Linked DNA regions of Homo sapiens. The protein of the gene in region 5 purifies or fractionates together with the protein of the main gene of each other region. This does not show direct contact. Each region holds a gene or a part of one and is shown on either strand. Other genes may lie near its edges.

The links.
Region 1: the proteins of LRCH1 (region 5) and TMEM131L purify together in Homo sapiens (affinity purification with mass spectrometry; one large-scale study listed by BioGRID and IntAct). This does not show direct contact.
Region 2: the proteins of LRCH1 (region 5) and DSTYK purify together in Homo sapiens (affinity purification with mass spectrometry; one large-scale study listed by BioGRID and IntAct). This does not show direct contact.
Region 3: the proteins of LRCH1 (region 5) and PIK3C2A purify together in Homo sapiens (affinity purification with mass spectrometry; one large-scale study listed by BioGRID and IntAct). This does not show direct contact.
Region 4: the proteins of LRCH1 (region 5) and TMEM38B purify together in Homo sapiens (affinity purification with mass spectrometry; one large-scale study listed by BioGRID and IntAct). This does not show direct contact.
Region 6: the proteins of LRCH1 (region 5) and ABCB8 purify together in Homo sapiens (affinity purification with mass spectrometry; one large-scale study listed by BioGRID and IntAct). This does not show direct contact.

Annotation. Positions count from the first base shown.
Region 1 is NC_000004.12:153,584,860-153,588,359, reverse strand, and holds part of TMEM131L (transmembrane protein 131-like isoform 1 precursor), read right to left. Parts: coding exon 3,429-3,500; intron 2,903-3,428; coding exon 2,749-2,902; intron 2,152-2,748; coding exon 1,981-2,151; intron 619-1,980; coding exon 549-618; intron 1-548.
Region 2 is NC_000001.11:205,163,203-205,166,702, reverse strand, and holds part of DSTYK (dual serine/threonine and tyrosine protein kinase), read left to right. Parts: intron 1-2,747; coding exon 2,748-2,980; intron 2,981-3,500. UniProt on the Homo sapiens protein: Acts as a positive regulator of ERK phosphorylation downstream of fibroblast growth factor-receptor activation. Involved in the regulation of both caspase-dependent apoptosis and caspase-independent cell death.
Region 3 is NC_000011.10:17,089,531-17,092,986, forward strand, and holds part of PIK3C2A (phosphatidylinositol 4-phosphate 3-kinase C2 domain-containing subunit alpha), read right to left. Parts: intron 2,747-3,456; coding exon 2,629-2,746; intron 2,539-2,628; coding exon 2,466-2,538; intron 2,127-2,465; coding exon 2,017-2,126; intron 1,930-2,016; coding exon 1,804-1,929; intron 391-1,803; coding exon 208-390; 3' UTR 1-207.
Region 4 is NC_000009.12:105,693,168-105,697,340, reverse strand, and holds the start of TMEM38B (trimeric intracellular cation channel type B), read right to left. Parts: upstream 2,801-4,173; 5' UTR 2,681-2,800; coding exon 2,569-2,680; intron 1-2,568. UniProt on the Homo sapiens protein: Intracellular monovalent cation channel required for maintenance of rapid intracellular calcium release. Acts as a potassium counter-ion channel that functions in synchronization with calcium release from intracellular stores.
Region 5 is NC_000013.11:46,551,861-46,555,969, reverse strand, and holds the start of LRCH1 (leucine-rich repeat and calponin homology domain-containing protein 1), read right to left. Parts: upstream 2,801-4,109; 5' UTR 2,574-2,800; coding exon 2,267-2,573; intron 1-2,266. UniProt on the Homo sapiens protein: Acts as a negative regulator of GTPase CDC42 by sequestering CDC42-guanine exchange factor DOCK8. Probably by preventing CDC42 activation, negatively regulates CD4(+) T-cell migration.
Region 6 is NC_000007.14:151,038,450-151,041,949, reverse strand, and holds part of ABCB8 (mitochondrial potassium channel ATP-binding subunit), read right to left. Parts: intron 1,683-3,500; coding exon 1,649-1,682; intron 1,453-1,648; coding exon 1,316-1,452; intron 1,123-1,315; coding exon 1,028-1,122; intron 852-1,027; coding exon 718-851; intron 1-717. UniProt on the Homo sapiens protein: ATP-binding subunit of the mitochondrial ATP-gated potassium channel (mitoK(ATP)). Together with pore-forming subunit CCDC51/MITOK of the mitoK(ATP) channel, mediates ATP-dependent potassium currents across the mitochondrial inner membrane.

The DNA.
Region 1 (3,500 bases), on a different chromosome or scaffold from region 5:
TCTTTAAAAAAAAAAAAAAAAACTATACTTTAAAACTCTCCCTAAATATCTCTATAAATCAAAAGACAAAAAAAACAAAAAAAAAAACTCAAAACAAGAAACAGCTTGTACATCAACACTAAGGCCCTTCAGTCTCAAATCACAACTAGCACCATCTGCAAGATGTTTACACTCCTATAACTTAAGTCCTCAAATACAATTCCAAGTTATTTTTACTAACTTCTAGTCAGTTCTTTCATAAAAGAATCAGAATCTTCCAATTTTTCCTATGGGTGCTGTGATGATCGAACAATGTTATTTGAAAAAAAAAAAAAAAAACCCTTGCGGAAGTACAAGCTACTAGATAATAAAGGGGCATTATTTACAGTACCCCAGGTGTTTCTGGAGGGTTCTTAACAATTTTAAGTCATTCTGTTAATGATCATCCTCTCTATAGAATATGATGCCTTTACAGAACTAATTATTCCATTGACAAATGCTAATTTTCCTCACTATTTCCCATCCCCCAAACTAGAGATCTACAGAAAGCCTAAGGGCAAAATACTTACCTGCTTTTGATTTTCCCATGAAATAATGCATGCCACAATGTGCTATCACTTCAAAACCCAGACTCCCTTCCTAGATTGAAAAGTAATATATGAATAACTTAAAACACAGCACTAAACATAAAAATTCTAATGCACTAAAATTCAAAGCAGACATTGGTCTGCACCTCAGTGAACTTCCCTTTAACCACGAGCCAAAAATTACTTTCTAATTGTTAAGGAATTTTCAGAGAAATCTGAACTGTCTCTCCCTAGGAGGGTCACTGAGTGGCTTCTGCAGGCACAATAATCAATGACAATAATGACCCTTGGGCCCACAAGACACCAAACTGCCATCTGAATTAAATAAAGATTATGATCACATGGCTGCACTGAAGCCTGGGCAACAGAGTGAGACCCTAACTGTAAAAAAAATTAAAAATTAAAAAAAAAAGATTAGATTAGTCTCAGGACATTCTCAGTGGTCAGAAGTTTTGTTTTTTTTTAATTGAACTCTAATCCTCTGGGAAACAGTATGCCAATCTATAACAACTCCTAGCTATTCAGGACATTTAATTTCCCATTTCCTACAGGTATACCTGAAACCTGCCTGCTCCTCCCACACTCTGCTGACATGCATCTCTTGAATAGAAAAAAAATTTCTAAGAAACCACCCCTGCTCAAAATATGGATAAATGGAATTAACCTTACATTGTTTAATTTTAGAATTCCTATCTGTACGCTTACAGCTAGTTAAGCATGAGGCATTTCTAACTATGAAAGATCCACACTATAAGTGAGAAAAAAAATAAAGATGGTTGCATGAATGTTGCATAGAAAAACCAGAACCCAGAGTTATACAAAATAGCTTGGAGCAAAAAGAAGCAAAAATAATAACCAAATGAAAAGAAATAAATATTAAAGAAAGAGACATATTTAAGACGGTCTAAATTAAATATAATTTACCCAGATTTTAGAAAGCATTTTCTTAACTGTGAATCTTTTCAGGCTTTATACTTGGCCCACTAAGCAAATTCAAGGATTACGAGCAACTAAGAGTCACTTAGAAGAGATCCAAATAAAGCATTTAACAATTTAATTTATTAAGTCATTGCAAGTATGTACTAAAAGCCAACCTGTGTTTTCTATAGCAAACACATACTGGTTGCTCTACAAATTTTGGAAATAAATGAAAATGACATCTATTAATCTATTGGTCATGCCTTATTTCATTCAAGAACTTCAAATTACTTTATAAAAAAGAAAACTCTTTCCAAATAAAGATTTTTATGTCTGAACAATTTATCATCCAAGACTGGCCTGGTAATATCCTTCAGTTTCTTAGCCTTAAAGAACGTGAGCTTAACCCAGTTAATAAAACTCAAGCACTAAAGGTTAATAAAAAGCAACAGTAATTAAGAAAACTGTAACACACATATAGTATTGTAGAAAATACCTTGGTTGGTGCTGAATAAATCTGTAGAGGTATTGCAAAAATGGCACCTATGTTTGTAGTCAAAAATACATTGGTGAATAGATTTATGGCAATGTCTTTAACAGCAAGTTTCAAAGAAAATATATTCCAACAGCCTGGAGGTAGAAATAAAGGGCCAGTGAAATTCAGAATCTAAAAAGAAAAGAAGCAAGAGAAATTACTTTTCCTAACACTAATTATGATTAAAATCATTATAAAGTATGATGCTAACATTCTTCTATACTTCAGAAAGTATGATTTTACTCAGTTATTTCCAGATCAAAAGTTGGAATATTTTTATAGAAATGATAGGTTACAAATAATGCTTAAGATGACACTGTTTTAAATTTCACAAAAGTAATCTTGAAATTTCAGTAAGTGATATTTTGCAAAAAACCTACTATTTTATCATGAACCAGGCTCATTTTTACTAATCTTTTTAGAACAATACATATACATAATATTTTTGAATAATGGTAAGAGCAAATAATTTTGAAAGGCTATATCCTGGTCCCTTTGAGCTCTTTTAAAAACAGTTTTTTAAAAAGAGAGAAAGAGAAGTCTCCTAAAAGTAATTCTGAAAATGTTAAAAGAAAAATACATGTTTTAAAAATCATAAAATTTTATATAAATAATAACTTCATAGCATTTGGAATATTTTTTATTATTTTATAGAAATAATTTCACAGCATCTGACCTTAAACAAAGCTTAAAATAAGCTAAAACTTGGGGAAAAAATACTATATGTACCTTTAACATGTGCTTGGTCTCCTTGGAAAGAAACACATCATTTAATACAACACTACGGTCAAAATGGTTGCGGTACCATATTGACCAAAGTCCTGATGTGTTCTCATGAGTCTCTATGTGAAACTGGGTTGCAGAAGAGTCCATTCTAAAATACCTGTGAACAGACGACATGCATGCTATCAGGCCTGAGTGTGGGACAACAGTCAGCCCTCTTATGAGCCTCTAATTGCAAAAACAGGAGCATCATAAAACGTTACTAAATGAAAGCTAGCGCCAGAGACAACCTCGGCAATCGCCTCCTTCAACCTTCTGGCTCACATAGGGAGCAACTGGAAGCCCGAGGGGAAGCAACCAGGCTGCGGCCAGCACAGCTCACAGAGGCCGCCAGGACCAAACCAGAACCTGAAGCCAACTCAGAAACACCATGTGAATATGTACTCTTTTCACACATCTGGATGCCTGATGCTGAACCTATTTCATAAACTGAATTATTTCACTTCCTTTTCCCCACTCAGCTAATATCCCTTTCACTGCCTGTTAGCAATGCTAAGGCAAGGGGAGGCAAGGCCAGTGAGAGAGAGAATCACACAAATCATATCACTATATTTTTAAACCATTTCTAGAGGGGAAAACAACAACAACAACCATACAAGATTTCAGGGAAAGTGGAAGTAACCTACCCCTGAGCCACAGAAGAGAAGAGGCATGCTTTTAGTGTTGGAGTGTGTGTTGTTTTCTTCACATCTTCTATA
Region 2 (3,500 bases), on a different chromosome or scaffold from region 5:
TGCAGTGGAAATCTTAGGAAGTCTTCTCAATATTTGATTAAAGACACCAGAGCATCACTGCCGGCATCATATTACACAGAATGGAGGTCAGGACAGCTAGGTTGGGCAGACAGTAAAGTATCCGATTGTTCTTACCTTGTTCTAAGTGCTTTCTGAGTATCCTTGAAACAATAAGAAGATTTAGAAGCAAGCTAGCACATATTCTATGGAGCCAGATTTTTTTTTTTTTTTGTAAAGACGAGGTCTTGCTGTGTTGCCCAGGCTTGTAGCGATCCTCCTGCTTCAGCCCCCACAAAGTGCTAGGATTACAGGTATGAGCCATCGTGCCCAGCGTTGAGCCAGATTACTATTACTGTCTGTTTTTAAATAAAGACAATGCATATGTGCTAGGTATCATGATATTCACACTTTATAAAATTTATTTTTAAGATAAAACCTATATGTATAGTACTTAACTCAGAGTTATAAAGACACCATCCCCCAGCCACCCAGTTCTTCTCCATATGTTCTTCTGCACTTGTCTTTTTCATTTAATATGTATCTTAGAGGGCATTCCATAAATATTCATACAAATTTGTCTTCTTCTAATGGATATGCCTGAATTTATTGAACTATTCTCTCATTGGTGGACATTTAAGCTGTTTGTTTTTGTTTTTTATTTTTATTTATTTATTTTTTTTTGAGACAGGATCTTGTTCTGTCGCCCAGGCTGGAGTGCAGAGGCCTGGTCTAGTCTCACTACAACCTCCGCCTCCTGGGTTCAAGGAATCCTCCCACCTCAGCCTCCCTAGTAGCTGGGTCTAAAGGTGTGCACCATCACACCTGGGTCTAAAGGTGTGCACCATCACACCATCATACCTGTATTTAGTAGAGACAGGGTTTCACCATGTTGGCCAGGCTTATTTGTTTATTTTTTATTTTCTCTTTCGCTAATACAAAATGTACTGCATTAATCATCATTGTACATATACACCTTGGGACTTGTAAGGGTATATCTCAAGAAAAAGAATTCCTAGAAGCAAAATAGTTAGATCAAAGGGTATGTAGATTTTTCTTGGTTGGTTGAACATTTTAATAGATATTGCCAAATTTCCTCTGAAGAAGTGGCACCCATTTAAGTTTCCACCAGTAGACATGAGAGTGCCTTTTCAGGAGCACATCTTTTTGCAAGTAGTTTGACTTCTCTCAAGTTCTTCTGTCCTCTGATTTACAACATTAATAGATGTTCTAATCCTAAGAGATAGTGTGGCATGGTGGGGACAATTGAGTTTTACTTTTTATTTATCTAGTAATTGATTAGAATAAAATTCCTGGCCGGCGGCAATGGCTCATGCCTGTAATCTCAGCACTTTGGGAGGCCAAGGTGAGCGGATCACCTGAGGTCAGGAGTTCAAGACCAGCCTGGCCAACATGGTGAAACCCCATCTCTACTAAATACAAAAATTAGTCTGGCGTGGTGGTGGGTGCCTGTAATCCTAGGTACTTGGGAGGCTGAGGCACAAGATCACTTGAACCCAGAAGGCGGAGGTTGCAGTGAGCCGAGATCGTGCCACTGCACTCCAGCCTAGGCGATAGAGCTAAACTCAGTCTCAAAAAAAGCAAAACAAAACAAAACATAGAATACAATTCCTGACTCTTGGGTTTTTCTCATTAATATGCTAGGGAGTGTGAAATTTTGCAAAGATCATAGGATTTGGAATAATGAGCACTGGGTTCAAAAGCTGGCTGTATTACTTCCTAACTGTACTATTCCCTTCCCATGTCTACTTTGTTCTCTCTTTGAGGCTGTTTCCTGATCTATAATACCCATGTAACAAAGTTATTGTGAAGATGAAATTAGATTACATGTGTAAAATCCTTATTTTAGTGCCTTTCAAATAGTTTGCACTTCATAAATGTTGTTCCTCCCCTCCTATAAATGTGACATAAAAGCTAACAAAATTGCCGGGCACGGTGGCTCACACCTGTAATCCCAGCACTTTGGGAGGCCGAGGTGGGCAGATCACGAGGTCAGGAGATCGAGACCATCCTGGCCAACATGGGGAAACCCCGTCTCTACTAAAAATACAAAAAATCAGCCAGGCGTGGTGGCGGGTGCCTGTAGTCGCAGCTACTCGGGAGGCTGAGGCAGGAGAATGGCTTGAACTCGGGAGGCGGAGCTTGCAGTGAGCCGAGATTGCATCACTCCACTCCAGCCTGGGCGACACAGCGAGACTCCGTCTCAAAAAAAAAAAAAAGCTAACAAAATCAACAGTCTCATTCTAGACTTATTGCTTCTTATTTATTTTTTTTTTTTGAGACGGGGTCTCACTCCCATCACCCAGGCAGGAGTGCAGTGGCACAATCACAGCTCATTGTAGCCTCTACTTCCTAGGTTCAAGCCATCCTCCCGCCTGCCTCATCTTTTTACTTTTTGTAGAGATGAGGTCTCACTGTTACCCAAGCTCATCTTGAACTCCTGGGCTCAAGCAATCCTCCTGCCTCAGCCTCCCAAAGTTTTGGAATTACAGGCGTGAATCACTGCACCTGGACTTAATTGCTTCTTCTCAGGATCTTAGCTGCCTTTAGTAGTTGAGGGTTACGTGACCCCTGATCATTGTGAGAGTTAGACATCATCAACGAATCATGTCTTTTTGCAGCCATCATCATCACGGTAGTTCCATGGTTCTGATTTGGGAGATGACTTTATTTAGTGTGTCTGCCCCTTCTTCCTCACAACTATTCAGCTTATTTCTCTGCCTCCATAGACGTCATTGTCCCTGAGAATGGAGAACCAGTAGGCACCAGAGAGATCAAATGCTGCATCCGACAGATCCAGGAACTCATCATCTCCCGACTTAATCAGGCAGTGGCTAATAAGCTGATCAGCTCAGTGGATTACCTGAGGGAAAGCTTCGTCGGAACCCTGGAACGATGTCTGCAGAGCCTGGAGAAGTCTCAGGATGTCTCAGTTCACATCACCAGTAATTATCTCAAACAGGTAGACAAAGAATGATTTTTAAGACATCGTGTCATAGATAGCACATGAAAAATCTGCACAAGTCCACACTTCAAATTAGGCAAGAATTTCCCTTTCAGCTTCTTGCGAATCTTGTTTGAATTTTATTTTGTTTTCCTGTCACATGACCACTGCCTGTGGGAGATGTTGGTGAGCTGTAAAACTGCAGTTAAGTTGATGAATATAGGCCAGGCACAGTGGCTCACGCCTGTAATCCCAGCACTTTGGGAGGCTGAGGTGGGCGGATAACCTGAGGTTGGGAGTTGGAGACCAGCCTGACCAACATGGAGAAATCCCATCTCTACTAAAAATACAAAATTAGCTGGGCGTGGTGGTGCATGCCTGTAATCCCAGCTACTTGGGAGGCTGAGGCAGGAGAATCGCTTGAACCTGGGAGGCAGAGGTTTCGGTGAGCCAAGATCACGCCATTGCACTTCAGCCTGGGGGACAAGAGTGAAACTCTGTCTAAAAAATAAAAAAAAAAATAAAAAAATAAGTTGAT
Region 3 (3,456 bases), on a different chromosome or scaffold from region 5:
CCAAAAATTCAAAAAGGTTAGTTATGTGACTGTTGGTCCAACAGATGTGTTGAAATGCAGCAAGTATATTTAACTTTATAAGTTCTGTCCAAGTATAAAAATACTATACAAAATTAACAAGTGTGTGTGTGTGTGTCTGTGTGTGTGTGCATGTATGCATGCACGTTTATAACTGTTCATGCTTCCAAAGCTCAAACATTCACTAGTTTACAAGTATGTTGCCGCAGTCAGCTGATACCATTTAACCGTCTCTTTGCTCAAGTTGAAATCTTTCAAAGGCAGGGTTACTCCACCCAAGAAAAAATTCTCCCGCAGAGATTCTGCACTGAGTACACTTAGTTGAAGTTCTCGCTGTCTTAGGGTTTCTTTGCTATATCCACTGTATACAAGCTACAACAAAGGAAAAAAGAACAGTAAATCACAAATTAAAGTTTGTTTGGTTTCTTGGAACATTTCAAGTGAAAACGTGAGAATATTAGCCAAAGAGTGACCACAATGAGTGACACTGATTATGACACATCCGGTAGGTTTTGTCTGAATACTTTAGAAGGACATTTTGTGTTTCAGGAGTCTTGGATTGTACTATCATTCCTGTGATGTCTGACATAGAGAGATACAAAGCAAGACTAATCATTAGCTAAAAAATAAAAACTAGAGGCCAGGCATGGTGGCTCACGCCTGTAATCCCAGCACTTTGGGAGGCTGAGGCGGGTAGATCACCTGAGGTTGGGAGTTTACAACTAGCCTGACCAACATGGAGAAACCTGTCTCTACTAAAAATACAAAATCAGCCAGGCGTGGTGGCACATGCCTGTAATCCCAGCTACTCAGGAGGCTGAGGCAGGAGAATCACTTGAACTCAGGAGGCGGAGGTTGCAGTGAGCCAACATGGCTCTATTGCACTCTAGCCTGGGTAACAACAGCGAAACTCTGCCTCTAAAAATAAATAAAATAATATAATAATAATAATCATCTAAGAGGTGGAGTGATCTAAGACAAACTGAATAGTCTGGAAGTAATTAAGCACAGACTAGACAACCACTTTTTGTGACTATTATAGAGGGGGGTTCACACACTGGAAACGTAGTTGAATTATGGCTCCTAAGGTCTATGAGGGCTCTATTTTATATCATTTTGTTAAATACTATTGGACTGTTATTGGTGTACACTGTATAACAAATAGTTCAGCAACTGATACCTAAAAACTTAAAATTTTTTTTTTTTTGGGACAGGGTCTCTCACTCTGTTGCCCAGTCTGGAGTGCAGTGGCATGATCATGACTCACTGTGGCCTTGACCTCCTGGGCTCAAGCAATCCTTTGACCTCAGCCTCCCGAGGAGCTGGGATTACAGGTGCGTGCCACCATGCCTAGCTAATTTTTTTCTTTTTTTTTTTTTGTAGAGATGGAATTTCATCATGTTGCCCAGGCTGGTCTCAAACTCCTGAGCTCAAGGGATGTATCCACCTCGGCCTCCCAAATTGCTAGGATTACAGGCATGAGCCACTGCGCCTGGCCTTAAAATGTTTTAAAATTTAAAATCTCAAAACAATGGACACAGAGAAGGGGACAACACACACTGGGGCCTGTTGGGGGATGGGATGGTGGGAGGGAGAGCATTAGGAAAAATAGCTAATGCATGCTGGGCTTAATACCTAGGTGATAGGTTGATAGGTATGCAGACCACAATGGTACGTTTAGCTATGTAACAAACTTGCACATCCTGCTTACGCACGTCAGAACTTAAAAATGAAAATTAAAAAAATAATAAACCAAGGAAACTTCTAGAAATGATTTTAACTTACCATTTCATTGAATGTCGGATTCCTCGTTTTTCGTGAAATTTTGGTTTTACGTTTGGATGTTTTGTGGTTATCTGGAAGTAGGTATGTTTTGACATATGGATTTGGGTCAGCTCCATCTTCAGTAACCTAAAAAGAAAAGCAGTCCCTTAATAGTAATGCTTCCTACCAAGGTAAGGGTTTCCTCTACAACCATCATTCTTTGTAATCACTCACAAGATCTTTGATATGCATCACCATGATGAAAAGAGTACCATTTCGGTAAGAGATGGATAATTTCACAGCTCCTCCTATTTGGCCTGGAGTAGGACTGAAGGAACCTGCATCTGAAAATACAAATATTTTCATCTTTATTTACTGGTTGTAGTGGTTCAAGCTGCAATAAAAGGATTTTGCTTTATTTTCAAGACTGTCACATGTGGTGCGGACAGAAGGGAGGGGAAAAAGGAGTAAACAACCTGATAGGTCATTGATTTATACTTCTTTAGTAATCACATCTATTAGGAAAGTTATATTTATTCAGAAATAGACTGGCTTAGAAAGAATACTCTCCTCCCATTCTCAGACTACAGCTAGTAAGCCTGCTGTCATTCTACCACATTCATCGAGAAGTTACAGACTTGCAGATCATGAGTTACCAATAAAGAGAAAAAAAATAATCTCACCTGCAGACCTAGCTATCCCTTCAGCTTTCTCATCACGAAGTAAAGGGTGGAAGAAAGTACAAACAAGATCACACTAAGAATAAAGAGAAAGCAATTCATTAGTTTAAATATTATGTAACACAAAAGGTATAAGATGTTATTACTTCTCATTTAGTAAGGTTACCTCTGCTACATCCGTTGAAGCATTCATCAAACTCTGTAAGTAACTGTTTAACTCAATTTTCCTTTTGGCTGCTACATCTTTTATGTGTGTTCTTCCTAGAACCATCCTATTAGGAAAGCTACAAAAGAAAAACAAAAACAAGTGGGATTTAAATAAGTACAATATTTCCTTAGAAATACACTTTTTCATATATACTTAAAGACAAAGTAGTCTTAATCCATTATAAAGTAATATTTTGTGGCCGGGCACGGTGGCTCATGGCCTTTGGGAGGCCAAGGCGGGTGGATCACTTGAGGTCAGGAGTTTGAAACCAGGTTGGCCAACATGATAAAACCCTGTCTCTACTAAAAATACAAAAATTAGCGTGCTGATGCCTATAATCAGATACCTATAATCCCAGCTACTCGGAAGGCTGAGGCAGAAAAATCACTTGAACCTGGGAAGCGGAAGTTGCAGTGAGCCGAGATCACTTACACTCCAGCCTGGGTGACAGAGCAAGTCTCCGTCTCAAAATAAAATAAGTAATTTTTTGTGATTTCTCTTCAAAGTATTGGAGATGACATCGTTCAGTCACCCATTATCCTTTTATGAGCCTTGGTTGAAAAGGTGTATGTGTTGATTTCCTATATTTATTATTAGCTTGGTGCAAAAGTAACTGTGGTTTTTGACATTAAAAGTAATGGCAAAAAACGCAATTACTTTTGTACCTACTTAATACTTATTTTCTAATATTTCTTCTCAAGTTTAATCACTCATAAATATTTTATCCAGATCTGATCCCTAAAAAATAAAATCACTACTCAATCAGCCATAAATATTACATATACC
Region 4 (4,173 bases), on a different chromosome or scaffold from region 5:
GGTACTGTATGATACTATATAAGTATTCAATAATCACGTGGTTCTCAAATTATGGAATCTCAGGAGCCCTCTACATCCCTAAAAATTAGTAAACAGATTAATGCTTGCCAAGGATAGGGGACAGCTTACACAAAAGTGCAGGAAGGAATTTAGGGTGGGTGAGGAAACCGTTCAGTATCTTGATTGTGATGGTAGTTGAATGACTGTATGTGTCTGTCCAAAAACACAGAACTTTTTATTAAAAATGGTGAACAGATTCTATGTGAATTACATCTTTTAAAAAATCGGACTTAAATTTCTTGACAACCCCAAAAGGTTTTGTTTATGTTGGCTACAAGTATCAATACTTAGCATCTTAGAAATTATAACTGAGAAAATTTTAAATAGTTGTGGCGGCTAAAGCAACTCCAACATCCGCCATGTTGACTTATGATTAACCCCAGTTCTGGGATTGCCTCTAAGATTTATATTTTATCTACTGTTCCTTGTGTAAAAGTATACACTTACCGATCTTGCCCTTAGGTCAAACAACCTTGACGCTATTTCACTTACCATAAATCCTGCTCTTAAGCAACTGTCCTACACATCTCTGGTTGGGGGTTGGGGGTCGGGTAATGGGGTGATCCACCATCTCCTTGGGGCCACCCAAGACATGGCTTCTGTTCTTAAGTCCCTTTTAAAGGTTTCTTTCTAAGAAACTGGATTCCTCAGCCTCTCAGCTTCCTCAGCCTTTGGGGATAGGACTGCATAGACCTGTCCACTATGCAACAATTGTTCTTCATGTTTTCATTTTTTAAAAAGTAAATGTATTAAATGTTAACATAAATAATGTATTCTTCAAGCCTGGCCAACATGGCGAAACCCCGTCTCCACTACTAAAAATACAAAAATTAGCCGAACTTGGTGGCAGGCGCCTCCCAGCTACTCCGGAGGCTGAGGCAGGAGAATCGCTTAAACCCAGGAGGCACAGGTTGCAGCACTGAGCCGAGATCGCGCCACTGCACTTCAGCCTGGGCGACAGAGAGACTCCGTCTCAAAAATAATAATAATAATAATGATAATGTATTCTTTATGAAAAATAACTTTTCCAAAACAAAAAACATTTAGTGAGAAGAATCACACTGTGTACATTCTAACAAATGTCTGGCTTCAAATAGAAAACTGTTAGATTCTCATATCTACTTCCTTCTGTTACAGTATCACAACTCAGGTAGCCTCTGGAAAACTCCACTGTACACTTCTGAAAAAATGAGAGTGAAAAAGATAACATCTGCATATTATTACGAAAGTAATTTTAAACTGGCAGTGTCAGAGAATCCCATGGGTCCCTGGACCACAATGTGAACATCTGATTCAGCCTATACAAAAAAAAATTTTTTTAATCAAATTCTGAACATGTAGTAGCAACAAAACTTACTTTTTTCAAATCAAAGAAATAATATCTTATGCAGATAATGTGTTCTACTTTAATGCAGTAATACCATCCTCATCCAGGTCAAAATTTGTACCAACGATTTAAACTGAGCTACAAACTTCAACATAAATGAAAAATATTTCTGAGGTCTAAGGATTTTTTAAAACCAGTAAGTAGTCCATAAGAAAGATACAGCATCATCCTCCAGACCTCACTCATCAACTATCCGTAGGGCAAGGCAGATGAAAGACAGCAAGAACACAAAGAAAGTAGGCAAAGAAATGTCTGACCTCAAAGAAAGAAGAGGTCCATACAACTAAAAGCACAGTAGAATAACTACAAAAGTAAAGCAGTATTAGAGCAAACGCACCCTGGTGTAAAATCCAATAAAATACAACTACTGTCCCTTGATCGCATTGCTAAAAGAACTCAAAATGCTGTTTCAAGACTATATCCCCATTCTGCAGATAGTGAAACTACGCCAGGTAACTCTTGCTTGTACAGTGTCCGTCGTGACTGTGAAAAGGGGAACGCACTCGCTTCTCACATGCTAGGCAGGGTGTTAGGACACTGCGTGAAGGGGAATCCTGGTCTGGCTACAGGAGGCTTTTTGTTTCAGTGCTTGTACAACTTTCATAACTGGAGAGTAGTCCGCAACCATCTATTACTCCAAGAGACTGAGTCAGAAACCTGCTGTCTCCTCACATGACTTTCAAACACTGCGAGCGAGTGGCGACACTGCGAGCGAGTGGCGACACTGCGAGCGAGTGGCGGTACCGCGAGGAGGCCGCCCAAGCCCTGGGCTGGCGCGGATATCTGTGGTTCCGAAACGCTGCGGCAGCTTCTGTCAGTCCTGGGACTTCTGCGGGCGGTTGGCAAGGTCGGCCCTGCTCGCCCAGGCTACGGCCTCGCGGACCCCAGGTCACGCCTCCTTTGAGGAGTACTAGAGCCTCCGTCCTCCCCCACGCTGTTTCCCCATCTGCACTCAGTAAGTCAGACCAACCGGCCCTTGGCGCCCCTCCAACTCTACCATCGAACTGTCTGGGCTAGCGGCCACTCAGCCGCCCACCCGACCCACCCGACCCACCCGACTTAGACGGTCCTCGCCGTCAGGAGCACTCTGAGGGGTCCGGCCCGCGGCGCCCCGCACTCACCCGGCTGACGTTTCACCGCCATCACTGACACTAGATAGTGCGCGATGTCAAAAAAGGGAAACATGGACGTGCGGGAGAAGGCCAGAGCCAACTCGTCCCATGGAGAATCCATAACGACCACCGACCGCGGCAACCGAAGCAGCCGCGGCTACTGGTTCCCCGCGCTCGCGCGGTGAGGAGTAGGAGAGGGCACAGCCGCGGCCGCCCGCTCCTCCGCGCCGGCTCCAGCTCCGCGCGTGCGCCCTGGCGCCGAGGGGGCGGGGCCGCGCTTCGCGGGAGCCGCAGGCTCACCGGCGCTAGGCGGGTGGGCGGGGCGAGCGGGTTCCCCGCGGCTCCAGCCGGCTCTTGCCTCGGTTCTCCTAGTAAGGGTCCAGCGTCTTCTTGGTCCTGGGCGCAGTGCAGGACCTGGAGAGCGTGCAGATGAACAAAACACGGTCCTCAAGGGGAGACGCTCAGAGTTGGATTTATTTCTGTAAATTGATGTCATTCACCTAACATTTATCGAGCAACCACAGTGCAAGTCACACTGTGACTTACTGGAGATATAAAAATAAAACAATAATATCCTGACCTCAAGAACTATGCGTTCCCTGAAAGAGATTTTTTATAAAAAGAGAAAAAACGCACATAATGGTACAAAAGCAGGTACTGAGAAGTATAGCTGCCGTGCGAGAGCAGTTCGAAACGAAGATTACAATTCTGGGAAGTGAGTAAAGTGACATGTGAGCTGGACTTTAAAAGTTAAGTGAGAAACACAAGCTAGGTGGGAGATGGAGGGAGGTGTTTTGGGTTGACTACAAAGTGAGAAATGAGGTTGGGAAAAGTCCTCGAATGGCAGACAAAGCCAGGCAGTTTGGCTCCAGAGGTTAAATTCTTGATCAATCACTATGTTAAGCTCAGAGCCAGAATCTCTTCTCCTAATCTCTACGCTAACTGGGTTGTTTGGTGGAAGGTGAGGGAGTAGAGGTGCAACGAAGCAACAAGATTAAGAATAGATTGATGAGAAGCGACTGACAACGGAAAATCAGAGGGTATTCACTGGTCCAAGCAAAAGGTAGTGGAGGCTGTGGCAGCAGAAATTGAGACCAATTGTGGGAAACATGGGTAGAAGCAGAATATCGTCAGTGAGTGTCAGTCTGTACAGGCGGGAAAGGAAGCATTTGTCAAATAAAATGAGGAACGGGTGAGTAGGAGGATTGTGGTTGCATTCTGATAAATAGGAAACAAGAAGGAATAGGTTTGGGTAAGAAAAAAAACTAGCTTGGCACACTTATTTGATGTGTGAACAGATTATGCTGGCACCAGGAAATTGGAGAAACGTGATTAGCTGCTAGGTAGGTGACAGCTTCACGGGTGTATGCACTGCAAAAGGAGAATTTTTTTTATCTGAATATGTATTCATTAATTTTAATTCATTTAACAAAATGTTTTTTGCGTGCCTACTATGTAACCAGCATTTTGCTGGATGTCAGAAATACTGCCCTAAACACTAAGTGTTTAAAACGTAGGAAAATTGTAGTAAATCTCTACACTTCATTACTTATCAAGAAAGAATAGACTTGTTCAAATACTTTTCACGTGTGGTTTTCTAAGCAAGCACTTCCC
Region 5 (4,109 bases):
CAACACTGTGTACACCGGAGGTAACTTTAACTCTTTATTTTGCTTTCTGGTCTCTCAAATAAGAAACTGTGCTCAATTAAATTTATCTTTAGAACAAAGAGTACATGTGGTTTACACCTAGCTTTTGACCTGAGGCAAAGACGTTTTGCAGAAGCAAATATTTAATACATTTGGGTATTCTAATTTCATGTAAAATAACTAGCTGCAATGAATACTTTTCTGATGGGGTTGACTTAAGTTTCTACAAACATGAATATCCCTCCACTCCTCTTCCCCCAAATAATACTGTATTTTTGGATGAGGAATTAACATAAAGCCTCTGAATTTTAACCAGTTAGATTTTCCTGAGCATAAAACATGTGCAAGTGAGCTCATAAATAAAAACCTGCAAAACTCACAACTTAAGCTTGCCATAAACAAGCCAACAAGAACACTTTCAGCATCCACTTCACATGGCGAGGTCTTAGCTAAAAGATGTGATCCCTAAAAGCACTGGTCTTCTCAAAGAAATGCCAACACAGCAGACACATCAAGTTCACCTAACTTTGTAAATAATCCTTAGCATAACTGAAGTAGAACAACTATGAAGCCCCCTTACTGAACTACACAAACCTATTATTATTAGTCATGCCAGCTCTATTTTCTGCAGATATAGCCAACCATAGCATAGCTAGCTCACGGTACACTCTATAGCAGAAGGGAAGTAAAATTTAATGTAGTTTTTTAAGTCAGTGATTCAGGCAATTCTTGGAATAAGTTCCACTTGAGAAGATGTAACTAAGAGGTCTTATTGAAAGACACTCCCCAGCTGTTGACAGCTCAACTTTGGAAATTCCCTCTTTTTTGCCGATTCCTGACTATCCCTAAATCCAAATTACAAAGTTTAATGACCCTGGAGAGCCATCTTTGCCTCCAGTGAACTCAGAACTGTATCTAAATATTCATTAAGGCTCTAGATAAATGTTTATTGAATTAAAAGGGGGAAAAGACACTGGAAACCTAGCCTCCAAAAACCCACTGCCTGCTCCCTTGCCCACTACAAGATTAAACTGGGTGCTCCTGTGATGAGAGTCAACCCATCCAAGACCCAGGGGGTCTGACCCTGGGCCATGAGGCGATGACAGCCAAGAGGTCTGGGCAGCGGCTCCAAAACGGAGCACCCACTGCCCTGGGAAATGTTGGGCGCTTGCTATGACACAAACCCTCCCCCAGGGAGCGGAACCGGATGGCCGGAAACCAAGTCAGTTCTGTATAGACCCTAAGGCCCCAATCCTATTCCACCACCCTCCTTCCTGTTTATAGATCCCGCTCCTGGAACTCCAACTACCAAAGAGAAAGCAGACGTTTTAGAAGTATGTAACACATGACGTAACTTGAAAAAGTTATGCTGCTTATTGGCGCGAGTTACAACTTGCCGGGCTCACACAGGAAAACAGGCTCACGTTAATTACTTTGCCTTTAATATGCCACGCCGTCCTTTCCTGGGGCCCCCGCAACGGTTGGGTAACTGAGAACCAGGTAGCCTCGGTGGTAGGACCCAAACTGTGTGGGCGGTGAGCAAAAGGCACGGAAGGAAGAGGGCCGATCGCTTCCGAAGCGGCAGCCGACTGGGATTCACTACAAGCCCGGCGGCTCTTTTCCCGCACAAGCGCAGGGAGAGGAAACTTGGGCACCTCACAGGCGGCACCGAGTTGCCCGATCGCTCGGCGATGTCGCCGAGGGGGCTCGCGGCACTGCGCCGATGCCCCTGGCTCGGCCGAGGGCGTGCCACCTTTGTCTGGGTTTCCCCACCAGGATGGGCTACGCCTCGATGCAAAGACGGCTTGAACTGGTTGGAGGCGCCGACGCCGCTGTCCGCGCTGGAGTTCCCAGCCCTGCGCGGGGCCCAGGAAGCCGACACAGCCGCCTGAAACCTCCCACTTACACTGCGCGCACGCGGCGCGCCTGCAAGTCCCAGCCCCGCGGTTACTTCCCTGGCGCGGCAGCCACAGGGTGGAGAGCCGGAGACCCCTCGCTCTCAGGCGCAGAGGCCCGGCGCACCCCTGCCCTCCTGGCACTGCATCGCCGGACCAGGCAGGGCCCCCGTGCCCTCTCCAGGGCCCGCTTCTTCCGCGCCCACGCGAGTCCCTTCTTCGGGAGACAACGGGCCGATGGACCCTCCCTCCCCCAGCAAGACAAGATCTCCGACTGTCCACCGCGTTAGGGAACGCACGACAGACACCCAGACAGCACCCACACCCCTGCCCGCCCCTCGGCCCTCACTCACCTGCCTGCACCGTGTCCGAGAGGTCGTGCCCGGGGGCTGCGGTACGGGGAAATTCCTTCAATTTCCTGGCGCTCAGGTTCAGCCCCCCGGAGTTGGCCGCCTCCTCAAGCGCGCGCTCCAGACCCCGGTTCAAGGGCAGGTTGAAGCCCCCGCTGCCACCGCCGCCACCACCCGCCCCGCCGGGGGCGCCGGTTCCTCCGTGGTGCTGATGGTGGTGGTGGTGGTGGTGGGGATGATGAAGTGGGTGCAGAGTAGCTACCGAAAGGGCCGGGACGAAAGGTTGGGGTTCGCTTCCCGGCGTCGCCATCTTCTCCCGGGCCCCCCCACCCCGCCCCGCCGCTCCTGCGGGGGGGTCACAGCGTTCCCCGCGAGGGGAAAACGGCAGCTCGGGCTGAGTGCCGCAGTGCTCCACCGAAAGGCGCTGGAAGGAGGGGAGGAGGGTGTGGGCAGGCGCGTAGAATGGGGGGCGGGCGGGGAGGCGGCCGTGGCAGCTCGGTCTTGAAGGTTTCCTGTCCCCGGGAAGCTAAGGACTGCGGCGGCGGCGGCGGCGGCGGCAGCGCGCATGTGTCTCCTCCCGCCCCTGCGCCCTCCCCCCGGCTGCTCTGCCCTCCTCCGCCGTCTGCTCTCTCCTCCTCCTTCCCCCACGCAGTCTGCCCCGCCTGAGCCTTCCTCCGCGCCTATTCTGCCGGCCGCCGCCGCCTTGCCGCGATCCGCCCCGCAATCGGGTACACGGCGGGGCTGGACGTCTGCTCCGGGGCAACTGAGGCGCCGAACCTCTCTCTGGGCGTCCTTTTGCCGCCCAGGAGGCTTTAGGGGACTGGAGGTTGCGGGGATAGGGGGGTGGTCTGAGAACACGGATAAAACGGCGGGAGGCAATGAATGGGATTTACAGTACAGTGAGGTTTGGGGCAGGAGAGGGTTCTCTCAATTCTGCGATTTATTCTGGCCGTTTAACCCAGAGATCCCCAAGAGGCAGTTTTCATTCACTATGGGGTCATCCCTGCAGATGCCCCCTGGCATTTGGGCGCTTACAATGAACCAGACGCTTGTTTAGGGAGTCTACGTAAGTTACCTCATTAATCCAGGGACCCCAGGAGTGCCAAAGTTGTTCCCCTGAGTCTACAGAGGAAGTTAATAAATGTATCTAAGGTCACCCCTGCAGTTAGAGGGGCGCTAGATTCGAGCTAGGGCCCTCAGAATCTAGGGTTGCCCTCCTTCACAGTGTACCCCTGGGCCAGACGCCAGCGCCAAGGGACGAATACGAGTGGGACAGAGTGTTTGCTGAGCGGCAGAAGAAAGCTACAGACATAGGAAAGAAAAACTCAAAATGAGGGCAGTGTTTATGGGGGACAGAAGACATTGTCGTAGGAGAAAGATGAGCTGGCTGCTCCCCGAAATTGGGTGGTGCCAGGAGAGGCTAGAAAGCCAGTGACCCCAAACAGCAAATCAGTCACAGCTCGAGTCTGAGCTGAAAGAACCATCGAAGTCTCCTTGTGCCCTTCTTCTTCCCGCTTTGGGGCATGGAAACGAACATGTCCGCTTGCAAGTGAATTCACATTCTGCCATCAGCCACCCAGTGGCACCCAGGCCAATGCTGGCACACCAGGGGCGACAGAGAACATCTGACACCCTAAGGGCAGACCAGCTGGACGATTAATAGAATACCATTCCTTTCCTGAAGTTAAAGCTTCATGTCCAACTTTCCAGGGCCTTTATTTTTGCTCTATTCTTAAGGCTTGATTGTCCCCTATGAGCGACTTGGCTTGGGGAAAATGAGTCGGGGGGTGGGTGCGGGGTTGTCGGGGTGTCAAGCACGAAAGTAATGCAACCCTTGGAGTAGGGG
Region 6 (3,500 bases), on a different chromosome or scaffold from region 5:
GGGTTATGGAGACAGAGTCCATAGAAACATTCTCTTTGCCCCAGAAACTGGAGGGGCCACCATACACAATGGGACAGTCTATCTGGTGGATTAGATTAGGATCTCTTGAAGAATCAGACGTTCAAAGTCAGAGGTGAAGTGAGGATGCAGAGTGGCCCCCAAAAGGGAAGGACAGTTCGACTTCCTACCAAGGGCCCAGAATCCCTCCCCAGGAGTGGGAGTGGGAGGAGCTGGCAGGGCAGGGCGCTGGGAGTTGGGGGCTTGCATTTGCCTTTCTTCTGCACAGGCACTCTCCCTGGCGGACAGCAGGCATGCCCTCTTCATTCACGGCCCTCAAAGGGAAGGGTGGACCCTCGCTGGGCAGTGCCACCTCAAGCAGAGGGAGAACGGCTGCAGCTCAGCACCTCCACTATAGGCTTCTCTAGACCTGGATGCTATGGGATTTGCAGAGAATCTGAGGGATTCCCCATCTGTGTAGACTGCTGTAAATGCGGACAAAGCGTCCCTGCTCTGGGAGACCAGGCAGAGCTGTGGCTGCTCCCACGACAGGGATGCCTCACCCAGACAACAGCTGAGGACATGTGAAGACGGCCAGGGTCTCCCGAGAGCAGCAAGGATGAGGGTGGGAAAGAAAGAAAAGGCACCTGAGGACTAAGGGGGCAGGGCCCAGGGGAGGACGGGCAGTGGGAGCCAAGGGCTGCCCATGTGGCCCCGCACCTGGCTGATGAAGCCGACAACCTGGCCCCGGAGCCAGGAGGGGTCAAGGGTGCGCAGGTCCCGCCCATCCAGCATCACCACGCCTGCCGTGGGGTCGTAGAAGCGCTCCAGCAGGGAAGCCACGGTGGTCTTTCCTGGGGAATTGGGTTGAGAGGGAGGGAGGCCAGGGATTCTAGGGATTGTCCCAGGAAAGAAGGCCCCTTGTGGCAGTGGAGGAAGGGACCCCACCGGGGGCTCACTGCTCCCGGCCTTGCTCTGAGTGGCTGCTAGAGAAGAGTCAGAGGGTGAAGAGGTGGTGGGCTCCCCTTACCTCCGCCAGACTGGCCCACGAGGGCCACGATCTTGCCAGGGGGCAGCGTCAGGGTGAAGTCTTTCAGCACCTCGAAGCCGGGGCGGCAGGGGTAGCTGGGAGGAGCCGAGAGACCCCCAGTCAGACCAGGCTCCCAGCCCTTGTTGCCCGGGTCCCTCCTGAAGTCTCCCTGTAGCCCTCTGAGAGGGCCTGTTTATGGGGGACATTAGTCCAGACCTCCACCCCCGAATCCACTCGCCTCATCCCCGGCCCAGGGACCCATCCCCACGCCTGCTCACCCGTGCTGACCTGAAGCAGACGTTCTGAAATGTAACGGAGCCACGCAGCTGCTCTTTGGGGACGCAGCAGCCCCCAGACAGTGGGATGCAGGGGTTCAGGGCCATGTACTCAAAGACCCGGGCACCTGCACTCAGCCCCCGGACCACCTGTGGGAGGGGATCCAAAGTCCGCAGGGAGGCAGGAGTAGGGGTGACAACAGCATCTCCAGGGAGTGGCCATGGCTCTGGGCTGGGGTCTCCCCAGCTCCTCTGCCCGCCCACACCCAGTCAATAGGCAGCTCCCACAGCGGCACACACGGCACAAACTCCACACCCCAGGCCCTCCACCCTACCGGCCACTCACCTGCCCAAACAGGACAGAGAGGTTGGCCATGGACCTGTCAGAAAAAGGAGAGAGGGGTGGAATAGATGGGAACAAGAAGAGCCAGAGGAGGGGAAGGAAGCCACGGTGGGGCGGGGGAGCAAGGAAGCAGGTGGCCTGTGGCCAAATGCAGAGACTGCTCCTGCACCATGGGGGCGTAGAGCCCTGGGACGTAGCAACACCAGATCGCTGAGCCCTGGCTCCCTCCTTGGCCAGATGAGGATGACAGCTGTCCCTCAGCTCAGCCCAAGCCCCTGGGAGGGGGTGCTCCACGAGGAAATGGAAGTGAAGGCACAGGCCTCTGTGGGTGTCCTCCAGTGCCCTGGCCTGTGGTCTGCAGGGTGAGGCCTGTGCACACATGCAGCGGTGATATCAGCCCACGAGGAAGGGAGCCCAGCTGACCCACGGACTCCCTGCTCGGCCCTGAGGATGCGGAGGCCGCCACCATGAACAGAGATCAAGGGTGCGTGGCTTAGAAGGGGAGAGCAGATCTAATGCTGCAGACTCTTGGGGAAGCAATGACTTTGGCAGACATTTAGGTGGAAGAAGTGATGTTAAATCTTTTTGGAGAAAGAAGAAAACAGAAGACACTGGGCCACAGGGGAACTCTCAGGAGACCCCAAAACAAAATTCCCTGAAAAAAATTTTTCTCATGAGCTTGCCCTGCAGATAAGTATACCCACAGTGTTATCTGTCTAGACAGTGGGTGGCCTCCTTCGTCCCGGCAGGGCCGGGGTAGGGCTGGCCGGCTGCCAGGAGGCTGAGGAGGAAGGTGAGTCACTGGTCCCTGACTGGCCTGGCTGACCTGTGACAGTGTGTGTATGCCTGGTCCCCTCCTAAGTAAGAGGAAAGACTGACTCCCCAGCAACCCTTCAGCTGCAGACTCACTTCTTCCAGCACTAGGGTGGGGGTGAGTGGGAGGAGCCTCGAAACCCAAAAGGAAAAGGTCCCAGTGGACTCAGTGCAGTCAGCACTTGCTAAAGGCAGCCGGGGGAGGCACCAGGCAGGAAGGAGCCAGCCCAGCCAGCTATCTGTTGATGAGCAGGGGCACATTCTCCACCAGAGATCTGGAAGACATTAGGGCCTGGCAAAGGGGCTGGGCAGCAACTGAAATTCAAAATGCACATGACTCATTGGAGTGTGATGACCCTGCTCTCAGGGGCCGTGGGCTGTAGGCTACGGGCCTGTTCCCAGGTGGAGCCTGGCCCTGATTCTGATGAGGCGGCTGGGCCCCACTTGCTGTCTGTCTGGGCACCTCCCCATCTCCATCAGGAGTACTCAGGATGGGCTCATAGGTTAGGCTGCCTGAGGTAGGCCGGGCCATCCTGCTCCCCTCTCTCTGCTAGACCCCAGTGCCAATGCATGGGCCCTTGGCTTAGCTGGCAGGACCCTGTGGGAAACACATCAGCTGCTTTATGCAACAAATCCAAACCCCCAAGATGAGTGGGGAAGAATCTCCACATAGGCAGCGCTAGAAGGACCTCCAAGAGGATGGGTCTAGGGCCTGTGGCTGTGGGAGCAGCCAGCGAAACAGCACAGACAAGCCCCTGGGGGTTCTTGTGTGTGTCATAAAGCTGCTGGATGGCCAAGCAGTACGGTGGGAGGTAAAGTCAGAGTCTCAGGCCCTAAAGGGGAAGTGGGGGTCCCGAAGCGGGAGGGTTGGGGCTGGACAGTGCAGCCACCCTCCCCACAGGGAGACTGTCCCACCACTGCCCACCACAGAGGGCTAAGGGGTGATTTTATTAAGGGAGCCACTGGGCTTCTTTTTTTTTTTTTGAGACGGAGTCTTGCTGTTGCCAGGCTGGGGTGCAGTGGCGCAATCTCAGGTCACTGC